Linked DNA regions of Homo sapiens: regions 2 and 3 are each linked to region 1. The links come from fine-mapping of genetic effects on gene expression. A gene starts in region 1. Each other region holds a variant in brackets. All regions are shown on one strand. Distances are from middle to middle.

What was found. PIP is the estimated chance that this variant, and not a neighbour inherited with it, causes the effect. A credible set is the group of variants that fine-mapping cannot tell apart.
Region 2: its variant is the best candidate, but not a certain one, in a credible set for the expression of NMNAT3 in subcutaneous fat (GTEx, PIP 0.88).
Region 3: its variant is the best candidate, but not a certain one, in a credible set for the expression of NMNAT3 in NK cells (Gilchrist 2021, PIP 0.53).

Annotation. Positions count from the first base shown.
Region 1 is chr3:139,676,296-139,680,536 of GRCh38, forward strand. It overlaps NMNAT3 (nicotinamide nucleotide adenylyltransferase 3), which reads right to left and starts at 1,677. Exons shown (of 7, transcript NM_001401600.1): 1 at 1,410-1,677. RefSeq lists a silencer at 1,731-1,780.
Region 2 is chr3:139,712,778-139,717,018 of GRCh38, forward strand. No RefSeq gene overlaps it. Among named protein-coding and RNA genes, the nearest start is that of NMNAT3, 37 kb to the left of the region's middle. The variant G/A (reference allele first, on the strand shown) is at 2,003.
Region 3 is chr3:139,811,033-139,815,273 of GRCh38, forward strand. No RefSeq gene overlaps it. Among named protein-coding and RNA genes, the nearest start is that of CLSTN2, 120 kb to the right of the region's middle. The variant AG/A (reference allele first, on the strand shown) is at 2,244.

The DNA.
Region 1 (4,241 bases):
GTGAGCAGCTGACAGATGTTTCCTGAAACCTAAAATGCTCTCCCAAATCCATGGGGTCTCAAGGTCTGACACGTCCTTAGCAAGGTCCCAGCATAGTTGCTGCTTCTGGGAAGTCTTCTGTCCAGTTTTAAGAGGTGACACCAAAAGCTGAGAACCACCAATGAAATTCAAGAAGTAACTGATGCTCAGTGGAGCTGTGTGAACCATACCTTCAGGGGCTCCTGGGTGGCTTTCTGAGAAAAACAGAGAAGCTTTCCCCTGCAAGGCCAGTGGGTAAGAACCCTTTCTCTGGGTTGTGCCAGGGTGGAACTGTCACTTTATTTCACCTGGCCCACCGGACATGGGCTCCAGGAGGGCAGGGCCCCTGTCTGATTTCTCTCTGAATCCTCAGAGCCAGGGTAAAGTGGGCGCCAGTTAAATGTTTCAAGAATGAACAACTAAACCAGTCATCATTTTAGAGAACAGGCTGTTTGAGAGATTCTACTCAGAACCACTTATTTGATAGAGGAAGAAACAGGACTCAAGGAGAGGGGAAGTGACTTTGCTGAGAGGCAGGCACACTGTGTTTAGTCCAGAACAACATCAAGCCTTGGATGTTTAGTGCAGAGTAACATCCAGCACCCATCACGCAGTGCTAAGTCATTTACATTCACCATTTCCATTCTCAATGGGTAGAACAATCCCATTTTACAGAGGAGAACGTTAAGGTTAAGGAACTTGCTTTCCCCCCAGCTCTCTGCAGGCCAGCCCCACCAACCCTCCTTTCCTCAAGCCACATTCTCTCCCAACAAAATGAGTTTGCTCTGTTGTTCCCCGCCCGGGAATTCTCTAAAGTTTTAGTTCCAGCAGCCTTTGTAGCTGGGGGCCCTGATAAAATCTCTCCAGCACCCTAGAATTTCAATCTTCATAGCTCTGACCACAGTTTTAACGTTCACACTTGTTTGCATAGATATCCATTTGCTGTCGGTCTCCCCCCACTGGACTGTGAGCTGCACGGGGGAGGGCACCACATTTTTTGGCCTGCTACTGTAACCCCAGCACTTAGCCCAGCAGCGGACACTGAGTGGAACACGTTAAGTATTTGTTAGACACTGTGCTTATATTTTTAACCTTTGAGTGCACGAGTGCTAAAGGTGGGATCCGAACCCACGTCTCCGGGACTCTGGTCATAGCCAAAGGGGAGCTGGGGGTTAGGTTGACACGCTGCAGCGAGAACCGCCGGCGCGCAGAGGCAGCGCGGAGCTGTCCCCCCGGTTCGCGCCACCCCGGATGGCTCCGCACTCCGCCGCCACCTGTCGCCCCAGCGGGGACTCCCAGGACTCAGTTAGGGGCCAGGAGTCACGTGGGCCCGGGCATTCAGCCGCGATCCAGGTCCTAGTGGGCTGACGAGGGGCCCACGCTGCGCTTACCTGCTATTTGCAGGGCTCAGCAACGGCGCTCGGCGAGTCTCGGGGGACTGCGGGGGACTAGGGGACCTGCTGGGCCTAGCAGGGGCTGTCGGTCAGCGCGCGGCCCGGCGCCCGAGGTCCGAGAGGGAAACGACGTTTGGTCTCGGGACTCAAGGCTGCCTCCGGCCCGGGCAGCCTCAGGTCTAGATCCCCTAGTACCTGAGCTGGAGGCGGGGCCAAGGCGAACTTGACCTTGCGCTCCCTTAGCGGCCCCGGGCAGATGGAGTCTGAGGGAAACAGATCTGCGCCCCGCCCCTTCGCTGGGGCGGGCCCTAAGGAGACCCGGCCCTGGCCCCGCCCAGGGTCCTAAGCCCCGCCCTCTCCCCTGCCCCCGCCCCCGCCCGCTGGCTCCCAACCGCCAAGGCTCTTTTGTGTTGCGTGCGTGTTTGCTTTTTTATTCTCCTGTTTTGTATTCTGTTTGTTTTGTATTTTTATTTAATTTTCTTTTAAAAAAATACATGAAAGTAACGCCCACTTACTTATTAGAAAATAAAATTATCTAGATTTGCTTATAATGAAAGCAACAGGCCACTTCTCCCTCCCATCACAGCTCTTTTTAACAATTCCTCCGTTAATTTCTTCTAGTGGTCACCCGCTTGTCGCAAAAAAAAAATAAATAAATAAAATAAAAAAATAAAAAAAGAAACTTACATAGCGATTTCTTGATTTATCCATTGACTTTCTGCCATGTTATATGAGGATCTACTCTCTTACTGCGCGGCCCCTGTTTCCTTCTGACAAATTTACACCTCTATTCTCAAGCCCTGCCCTGGTAAACGCCAGACCTCAAAGCAGGGAAGGATTTCTGGGGCCTGAAGCATACACAGTTGTGTGGGGAGAAGGAAGGGAGGGCTGCTTAAGAAAGAGAAGACAGAATTAGGGCTTGCCAGTGAACATTTATTTGGAATGAGAAAATAAATCTTAACAGAATCCTGGGGTCTTAGAGATTGGGGTCCCTATCCCCTAAAACCTTCTTAGGAAATTTAGGTCCCAAATTTGCTTCCCTAACGCAGTCTGGCTTCCTCTGCCCACCCAGAACTCTCCATAAGCCCCCAGGGCTCATGGGAGCCTTGCAGAGAGAGGCCTTGAAGGACAAGATTCACTAGATTCTGCCAATACAGTTTCCTAATGGAGTGAATTGGAGTGTGCGAAAAAGAGAGACATCAAGGATGATGTCAAGGTTTTTTGATTGCTGTACACTTAATTTCCAGCGTTTCCTAGACACAGGAACACAACCTCATCTTAGTATGGAGAGTGTTTTATAAGCCTGTCCACATCACCAGAGCCTCACGGTGCACCCATGAAGTTGGCTGGACGGGTGCACTGTCCACAGTTTTAGGAGGCCCATAAATTTGTCCCTTGTGTATTAGCACCGGGGGCATGCAACTTGCACCCAATAAGTACCCAGGTAAATGGTACTTCCCCACTCAGTCTGAAGACACAGTGTCCGTGCCCTCTCGGATCCCTTTTCTCTTACCTGTGGTGTAAAATGTGGCTCCAGAAGGTGATCTTGGACAAGTCTCTTTACTTCCCAAGCCTCACTTTCCTTTCGTATAATGGGAGGTAACAACCCCTACCGCACTGAGTTTTGGGGAGGATTAAGTGGCTTAACATCTTTGGATATTCTTTAATTGATAAGTCAGCTTATTTCCCAGCAGGGTGGGAGGCTCATGAGAAAGCTTAGGGATTTCTGAGAATCTTGTGTAGCATGTAGTACCACAGGTTGATTAGAGGCCTTCGATTAAAATCGTGGGCTGAAGAGTCATTCTGGGTCAGGGCCCTAGGCCAGGGAGGGAGAAGCTGCACACAGAGAGCAGAGAAGAGGCTGGGCAATGACTTCCTCATGCAAGGGAAGCTTTCTCTGCCTGAGGTAGTGAAGACTAAAGCTTGGTCTAGGAGGAAGCCTGGTTTCCTAGGCAAGAAAAAAGGAATGAATTAATGGCATTCACAGCAACTGGATGAGATTGGAGAGTGTTATTCTAAGTGAAGTAACTCGGGAATGGAAAACCAAACATGGTATATTCTCATAAGTGGGAGCTATGCTATGAGGATGCAAAGACATAAGAATGACACAGTGGACTTTGGGGACTCAGAGGGGAAGAATGGGAAGGGAGTGAGAGATAAAAGACTACAAATTGGGTTCAGTGTATACTGCTCGGGTGATGGGTATACCAAAATCTTACAAATCTCCTCTAAGGAACTTACTCATGTAACCAAATACCACCAGTTCCCTAATAACCTATGGAAATAAAAATATTTTTTTAAAAAAGTAGCGTCCCCTTGTGCTGGAAGGTAAGAACCTCATATAATAGCCAAGCTTTACCTAACCTAAGCGGTGAAGACGCAATGGCTGAGAAATCCATTTTGGAGAGGCAACTACCTCCTAATTTTTTAGAAGGAGGAATACCTAAATGCAAGTCTTGTATTTGCTTAAGCTCACAAAAAGACTACTGGATTATGGGTATAATGGGAATAATATTTTCAGATCTCTCCTTTATTGGTAAGTTTCATTTCTCCTGGATCCTATCTGCCATTATGGCTCAAGGAAGGTGGCCACCTAATGCCACCTCAGGAAGGAGGAAGATTTTACATAGAGGATGTCTCAGCTTGAGTGCCTCAGAACCAGATCCTGAGGTAAGAATTAATGCAAGTAGTTATTTGAGAGGTACATGGAACACCAGCAGAGTAATGAAGAAGCAATACAGGGAAGAAAAGGGGAGCTCAATAAAAGATTAAGCCAGCTACTATAATAGATGTTTAGGGCTTAATCCTAGGGGAAAACCCTAGAAAACT
Region 2 (4,241 bases), 36 kb after region 1:
CAATTTTCTTGTCTCTAGAGAGCTATGTTTCCATATTCACTAGACCATAAACTTTGTCCAAGTCTCTGTTTTTTTCTTTTTAGGGTAAAGCGGAATTCTGAGATTAAAAATATCTTTGGGTGAATTTGAATGATTAAACATCATTCATTCATTCAACACTTATATATTGAGTGCCAAGTAGCCAACACTGCGCTGAGCAAGGAATTTGATTTATTTCAAGTTTTCATTAGTCACTTGTTCCCATAAGAAAAATGGGCACCTACAACCTTGAAATCTTAAATAATGCAAATATGGCTTTGTGAAAATGAGCCATGGGAAGCAGAAGAACTTTCAAAGAAGGCAGACCATACAGCAAACGTGCTGCCCAATGGCACCAATTTGATATGGGGTAGAAGTGATGAAAGTTTTTAATACTTTGGCTTCTTTCTTCAGAGCTCACTCTACTTAGGGGTGGGGGAGACACATAACAACAGAGCATGATCGATACCCAGCTAGAGATATGAGCGAGACATGGTGGACACATGGAGGAGAAGAGGGTTAGCTCTGACCAGAGAGAGGTAGGGATAGCCTTGCTGGGGAGTTGAGTCAAGTTAGGCCTTGAAGGGTGATAGGAGGCTTGGAGAACACTTGTGTGTATGGAATTATGGGATTTCATTTTATCTTATTATTTTTGAGACAAGGTCTTACTTTGTCACCAAGTCTGGAGTGCAGTGGCACGATCATGGCTCACTGCAGCCTCAACCTCCTGGGCTCAAGCAATCCTCCTGCCTCAGCCTCCAGAGTAGCTGGGACTACAGGCACATGCCACCCTACTTGGCTAATTAAAAAAAATTTTTTTTTAATTTTTTAATTAAATTTTTTTTTTTTTTGTTAAGATGGAATCTCCCTGTGTTGCCCAGGCTGGTCTCAAACTTTTCATTATATGCCTACACACAAAAACACACACTCACACACCTACTCCCTACCCACATATGCACATGTGACATGTATACAGGAAATAGGGTCAACTTAGAGTTCAGATGGGTGACTTTATGAACAAGTGACTGGAAGATACAGCTAGCACGACTTGGCAAGGACCTAATTGTGTTTTGGAAAATGAAGGCTGGGAAACATGGCCTTGGTACCAAAATCTCACAAATCACCACTAAAGAACTTACTCATGTAACCAAATACTATCTGTTCCCCAAAAACCTATGGAAATAAAAAAATTAAAAAACAAACAAACAAAACAAACTAGATGCTTGCCTCTTGATTCCCAACTTGAGGGGCTAGGAGCAGAGAGTGTGGTGGCAAGATTTGAACCTACGTCTTGTCCTACTTCTCACTTCTGCTGTAGGAAGAATGACTGTCTTCTGGAGAAGTCAGGAGTCACTATAAGGTGTCTGGGGTATTCTGAGAACTTCTGACAAGCAGGAGCTGCCTTGTGGCAGAGGGAGCCCCTCCTGATGCAGACTGGCATTTCTGTGTCCTGTTCAAGCGGTTCCAGAGAGATCCAGACATTGGTGGGTGCCTTGCTTGAAAAGAATTGTTTTCAGATGGGGTTGCTGACCTCCAGACTGCTATAAAACTTATCAGGATGCTGGTAGAAACCCCAAAGCACCTCAGTCTCTGGCTCAAACCTAGCTTCAGAGGACCAATCTTATTAAGTATACGAGGATGTGTAGAGCCAGGCTTTCATCACAATGGTCTGAGTTTGAAGCCCAATTGTCCCACCTATAGATGGATGACTATGAGCAAATAACTTAACTTTTCGGAACCTGTTTTCTCATCTGTAAAAAGGGCTAAGAGTATCTATGTCATAGAGCTGTCAAGAGGATCAAATGAAGTAGCTTGCATATTTCCTGAAACATGGCAAATGCTTAATAAATGATAGCTAGCTGGATGTCAAAAGAAAAAGCTGCAGAGTAAAGGTGGTGCTTGAAAGATGAATAGATGTTTGCTAGGCAGCTATGCTGGCAGGGCTTCCGAGTGGGAGGGAGCAGTTGAACAAAGGCCCCGAGGC[G/A]TGAAATAGCCTGACATTTCAGGAAGCTATAAGTGGTTTGGTTTGGCTGGAGCATAATGTAGGGGAGAAGAAGGACATGCATTGTTTGTGGCACACATATAGATAGTTAATTATAGATAGACTTAAGTGGTTCGCTAATTGCCTCACCTATGTGTCTGGTCATCTGGAGAAGATAGCTATTTCCCTGTTGCTGGAGGCTCCTGTCTCGTGGTCAGCTTGGTGGCTAGACCAGGCCAGGTGTCCTTGAGAAGGACTGTCTCTTCACGTTCTGGGTTTAGCCATCAGCACAGTAAGCCATGGCTGAAAGGAGGTTTATTTTGGGGTAGTCCACCTGTATCCCTGTCCCTGAGGCACTCCAACCCACTCCCAGCCAGAGCCCTCTACTGCCTCTTTGCAAGCTGGAGGCAGGTTGCATTTGGGGCATCACTTGACCTCACTACTTTTTCAGCCACTGCCCACCATCTAGTCCCAAGGCCAATATAACTAGTTTTGATTTTCTTTTACAGCAGCAGTCCAATCCTAGTACCACTTCTGTATTTGGGTTCAGTCAGATAGGTGGAGCCACTGTGTATGTCACGGGAAAAGGGATTTACTATAAGAATTAGACTTTACACAATTGCGAAAAAAAATTTGGGAAGTGAAGATTCATGTTATGGGCTGAATTGTGGTCCCTCCTTGAATTCATATGTTGAAGTTCTAACCCCAGTACCTCAGAATCTGACTGTATTTGGAGACAGGGTCTTTAAAGAGGTAATTAAGGTAAAATAAATCACTAAGATGGGCCCTAATCTGACTGGTGTCTTTATAAGAAGAAATTAGGACACAGACACACACAGAGGAAAGACCACGTAAAGACAAAGAGAATACAGCCATCTAGAAGCCAAGATAAGAGGCCTCTGAAGAAACTAATGCTACTGATACTTTGATCATGAACTTCTAGGCTCCAGATCATGAGAAAATCAATTTCTTCTGTTTAAGCTAACTGATCTGTGGTACTTTGTGGTGTAAGCCCTAGCAAACTAATGCAGTTTAAAGGGGAATTTGGAGAATCATAGTCACCATCCATCCTCCTCAAGCCCTGACATGGATGGGCAAGTTGGAACTTGCAGGGAGAATCTGAGAAGTCAGGCAGGTCCAAATGTTGAAGTGGAAATGTGAGGTGGGATTCATGGAAAGGTATGTGGGAAGCTGTTGAATCTCTGCAGCTGCTATTTCTGTGGTAACCAGGCATCTGGTAGTGGGTGTGGAACCACTGTTGGTGATTAGAGCTAGAAACGGGATGAGAACAAGTTGAAACCCATCAGGCACCTCTCTGTCTTTCTGTTACATTTCTGACTTCAAAGACGTTTAGGGAGAAACAGTTACTGCTTCACTTCCACTTCCCAAGTCTTGTGAAAGTTCTGCTTTTAGCCAACTTGAACTTGGAGCCATAGAGAAAAGGAGATTCTGAGCTTTCAACTTGACCCAGTTGACAATAGAATGGTGCAGCTCATTAACCCTTTGAGATGCTCTGGAAGAGACAGAGAGAGAGAGAGAGAGAGAGAGAGAGAGAGACTGTAAGATCTAACAGGTTGCATACATACCCAAAACTATAATCCTCATCATTTACACATTAAAGGCTCTTAGAAGTCTGGCTGAAAGGAACCCATATAATTTTGATCAAGCTTTTCCCAAACGTTTTTGACTACTCAGCCTTCTTTCTCCTGAGCATAGCCATATTAACAACCTGAAAGCTTCAGAATGGATGTTGGCAACTGCTCCTTGATGGCAGCCCTGTCAATCAGTTATTCTCTATGCTGTTCAACCCCCTTTATGTCCATGCCCCACCTCTTAGGTAGCAGTTCCTCCCTCAGAGGGATCTTCTACCCAAGGGTTCTCTTTTTGCCTCCTCTTGCTAGCTAGCTCCTGTCCTACCTGAAGGCTGTACAACCTCAACCCTGAGCCTAAAGCCCACCCTATTCTCCCAGCAACCCACAGCATGTTGCATGAGACAGGGCAGAGCAGTGATGGGCAGGTCAGGTGTGGTGATGTGTGTGGTGGAGGTACTCTGGAAGAACATGGCCAATGAGTTCCTAGCTGCCTGCTCTTCAACACAATTTGTTTCTAAAAATTGTTATTTGTGTGAGAGATTCACTTTCTGAACAAATTGGGGTAACTTTCTTGTTATCCCCATAATAGTGTCATGCTTATCCCTTGCATGGAGAGATGGTTTCTTGAGATTTAGAGGGTTGCATGGAGT
Region 3 (4,241 bases), 130 kb after region 1:
CCAGGAAAAAAAGTTGGATAAGAATAAAATATTTTAAAACCATATTTCCTAGTTTTCTTCCTGGAAAAGATCTAGAAACAATGACCAACCAAATAGCAATGAGCACACCTAGAACTCAGATTGCGGTCTCCAAACATCACTTCCAACCAAAAGGAGTCAGAACTCTTTGGGGGAAATGTCTGGCTCTATGTCTGGGTCAAAGAATATTCCAGGTAAGCCTGAAACATCTTGATACACCAGAAATCAAGGAGTCAGTCAGGGTGGTGTTAAAAGTATTCAGAAGGAAACTTAAATAATCTCCCACTGGCCAAATAAGAGACAATTTGAGCTCAGTTTTCTGAGAAACAGTGTCTCCCATGCACTGAGAGAGGCAGAGAAGAGAGATGGAGGAACAGTACTTTCATGCTCCTGATTGTTTCCATTCCTGGTTTAGATCTTTGTGGTCTCCAGCTACATTCTTGTCTGTGGGTATTGAAAGCCAACTCACATCCTTAAAATAAATTTTCATTTCCTGTTTAATCCAGCCTCAGTTAGTGTTGGTTACTTGCAACCAAAGAGTACAGATAAACAGTGTAGAACTCTTCCATTAATTTACATCTTGCTTTGTTTGTTTGTTTTTGCAGTCTCCTTTGCCTAGGCTTCTGAATGTGTTTTCTCATTCAGAAGTTTTCTCCACTAGACTATGGAACAAGGGCTAGGCTCGGAATTACCAACCCCCTCCTCCCCAGGTACCAAACTGTCACTCTGTCCTGAAACTAAACTTGTGTGCTTTGAATTTCCCTTTTCTTTAGATGGATTGTTTCCTAGGAGACTTCCTAGGCCTCTCATGTAAACATGCCCTTGTTGGGCACAGCCTGACTGCACCCATGACAAATCTGAGGGGAGCACATTTTAGGATCAAGGTGTGGGTCTTTAGGAACCATGTCTCCTAAATTTTGCAGTAAATCCAGAGAGTACACAGGCTGAGTCAGCCACTTCCTGCCCCCTCCCTGATTATTCTTTACCCAGCATGGAGTAAATGCTTAAACTGTGCTTAGAGACTGATTGATTGGTTGATAGTTGAATAGACAGCCTCACATTTCTGATTTTTTTACCTCCAAGTGTCTTCCTTTACAAAACAGATACCTTGACATAATAAGAACTTATATTAGTTTAAAGTAATTGCTTATATTTTTCAAATTGCTCTGCTTGCTGTCTTCTAAAAGTGGCTAGAGTGCAATAAGGGAAGAGCTGTAAAAGCTGTCTATCACCAGATGTATTCTCTTATCTGCAGATATGAGTGGCTTCTAGTTTACAAGAAGCCTAATAATAAACTAGAACCCACATCACTGGCCAAAGGTAATAGGAAAAGGGAGTTTTCTGCTCTCAACTAGAGATAAACTTTTGATTGCTTAGGCTCTTGTTATGAAACCAAGTGGCAGAACATGCTGAGTACCTCTCTCCCCCAGAAAAATAGAACAAAAATTCCAGAATGTAGGCAAAACTCATCTTTGTGAATATTTCTGTCTCTCTCATCTCTAATGTTTAAGCCACTGAAGGGAAATGAGGCATGGGGCTCTCTGGAAGGGGACAGGCATGCAAATTAGGAAAAGAATCGATAAATTTTTGTGTGTTGAGTCCAAGAACTCTTGATCTCAAGATGTGATAGGGGAAAGAAGCATATAGGAATACATAAGGAAACAATTAATTGCCTTCCTTAAGTTGGAAGGTGAGAGCTGAGGCAGATGGAAGTCTCCACAGAAATCAGCCTTTATGGGTTTTCAATGTAGTTACTTTGGAAGAATATTAAGAGAGTAGGCAGCAGTTGTGGAAGTGATCAGGAGAGTGTAGGGGGTAATGAGGAAAGTCATGTTTTAGAGAAGCATTAGGACAGAGAGGAGCAATTTGCAGGCTTTTCTGTGCAGCCTAAATAACACCTTGTGTTTTCTCTGCAAAATGATCAAAGAAAGACAAGATTCAGAATGGAAGTCTCAACCACCCTAATGTCCAGCAAAGGCTCTGGCGATAAAAGATTCTGTGATTGTGAAATGGCTGAGGTGGCCACCCCTAGTTCTCTTCATCAAAGCCACCACACAGATGTTCAATAGAGGAAGACAGATGACCATCTGCAGATCATGATTGTGCTTTTCTGCTCAAAGAAGAACTAGTGAGGGGGGTCACCAGCCAGAACCAATGTGTTCACTTCAGCTGATGGAATGGCTAGGCAGTGCCTACAACCGTGTATAGAGGCTCTATTACTGGAA[AG/A]GGGTCCCAATTTAGACCCCAAGGGAGCGTTCTTGGATCTCACACAAGAAAGAATTCAGGCTGAGTCCATAGAATAAAACGAAAGCAAGTTTATTAAGGAAGTAAAGGAATAAAAGAATGGCTACTCCATAGGCAGAGTGGTTGCCCAGTTTTATGGTTATTTCTTGATTATATGCTAAACAACAGGTGGATTATTAATGCCTCCCCTATATAGGGTGGCTTCCTGACATTGCCATGGCATTTGTAAAGCGTCATGGGGCTGGTGGGAGTGTAGCAGTGAGGATGACCGGTGGTCACTCTTCTGTCACCATCTTGGTTTTGGTGGGATTTGGCTGGGTTCTTTACTGCATCCTATTTTATCCGCAAGGTCTTTATGACCTGTATCTTGTGCCGACCTCCTATCTCATCCTGTGACTTACTTAGAATGCTAACCACCTAGCAATACAGCCCAGTAGGTCTCAGCCTTGTTTTACCCAGCCCTTATTCAAGATGGAGTGGCTCTGGTTTAAACACCTTTGACAGTTCCAGTGAAGTTGTAGGGTACAGGGTTTTGAGGGTTGACTTAGTTCTCTCATCTTTCAGAATCAGCCTCCTCCCAGATAAAAAATATTTTCTGTGAAAGAAAAGATTTCAACTTTGAATGTAAGCTTCAGTTCCTGTCATCTGTAATATCAGGGTAATAATATGCCTAACTCATGAGGTTGATTAGATAAATAAAATGAAATGATCTAAAGCTCTTAGCACAATCCTTGGCACATATAGGTGCCATATGTTAGCCTTAATATTCGTACAAGTATTTAATGTTTTATTCAAGAGATTCCCTATCAATCAGGAAAATAGAAGTGATTCTAGATCTTTCAAGTAGAGAAATTTAACATAGGGCATTTGTTATACAGATAATGGAAGAGCTGAGAAGCCAAACTGTGGGACAGTGAGGAATTCCAGAGATTAGCAACAACAGGAAACTGCTATCATTTTAGTGCTGGAGCAACAATAGGAGGAGAGCTCAGAGGCCAGGGCCATCAAGCTGGCTTGAGAAACATGGTGGGGCCTGTCCAGTGGGAGGTGGGGCAATAAGGAAAGGATCTGTTTCTCCAGAGCTAGAATCACAGGAGAAAAGTAACCATTGCTACTATTCCCTACTGAGATACCACTGAAGTAACGCATGACAAGAAGAAATACCCTGCTCTCTTCATTCTTCCCACCCTCCAGCCTTCCACTTGTGTCTCCCACTAGCTGAGTCCACCCAGGAGCACATTGGCAAGAGAGCCTGAGAAGTATGGTTTTTTACCATACAGAGTAGAGCTGCAAAAGGGCATGGAGTGGACAGCCAACAAGCAAATGACCAGCATTCTTTACAAAGACTGGAGAGTTGACTGCTGCAATCCTTGGAAGATGGCAGCGGTGGTCTTTAGTTTTCCTAGCCTCTTTGGCCTTGAGCTTGTCCTCTGATGAATATTTTATGCTCAGCTTGCTCATTCAAGCCTGTTCTCAGAGAATTTCTTCCCTTTCAGGGTTCACTGGCTGGCAATAGTTTAAAAAGCTGCCTCTCAGGGAATTTACAGCATGGACCGAGACGATGAGGTTAGAAAGATATTCTAACAGTGACGTCTTAACATTTCAGGCTTTAGACACGTGAGAGGCTTTTTTCCTCTTTTTTTTTTAAACCCCAGGGTCTTCATTTGTAGAGTCCTGAGAATTGCAGCGCAAAACCTATGTTTTTTAATATTCAGATTGTTTCCTCCGTCATTACTATCCTGTGAGTAGAAAAACAGGGACTGATGTTCCTCAATTTAAAGAAAAGCATAGAATTGAAGAAACTCAATATGACAGATATAATTGATAGAGATGGAATTTGAGTCCACTTTTTCCTGACCTAAAGCCAAGCATCTTCCCACTCTGCATTGTGCCCTTCCCAAGGGAAATACAATGGGTTCAAGGGCAATGTCATTTATTGAAGTAGTCCATTCTTTCTCCCTGTAGAATGACTCCTTTTC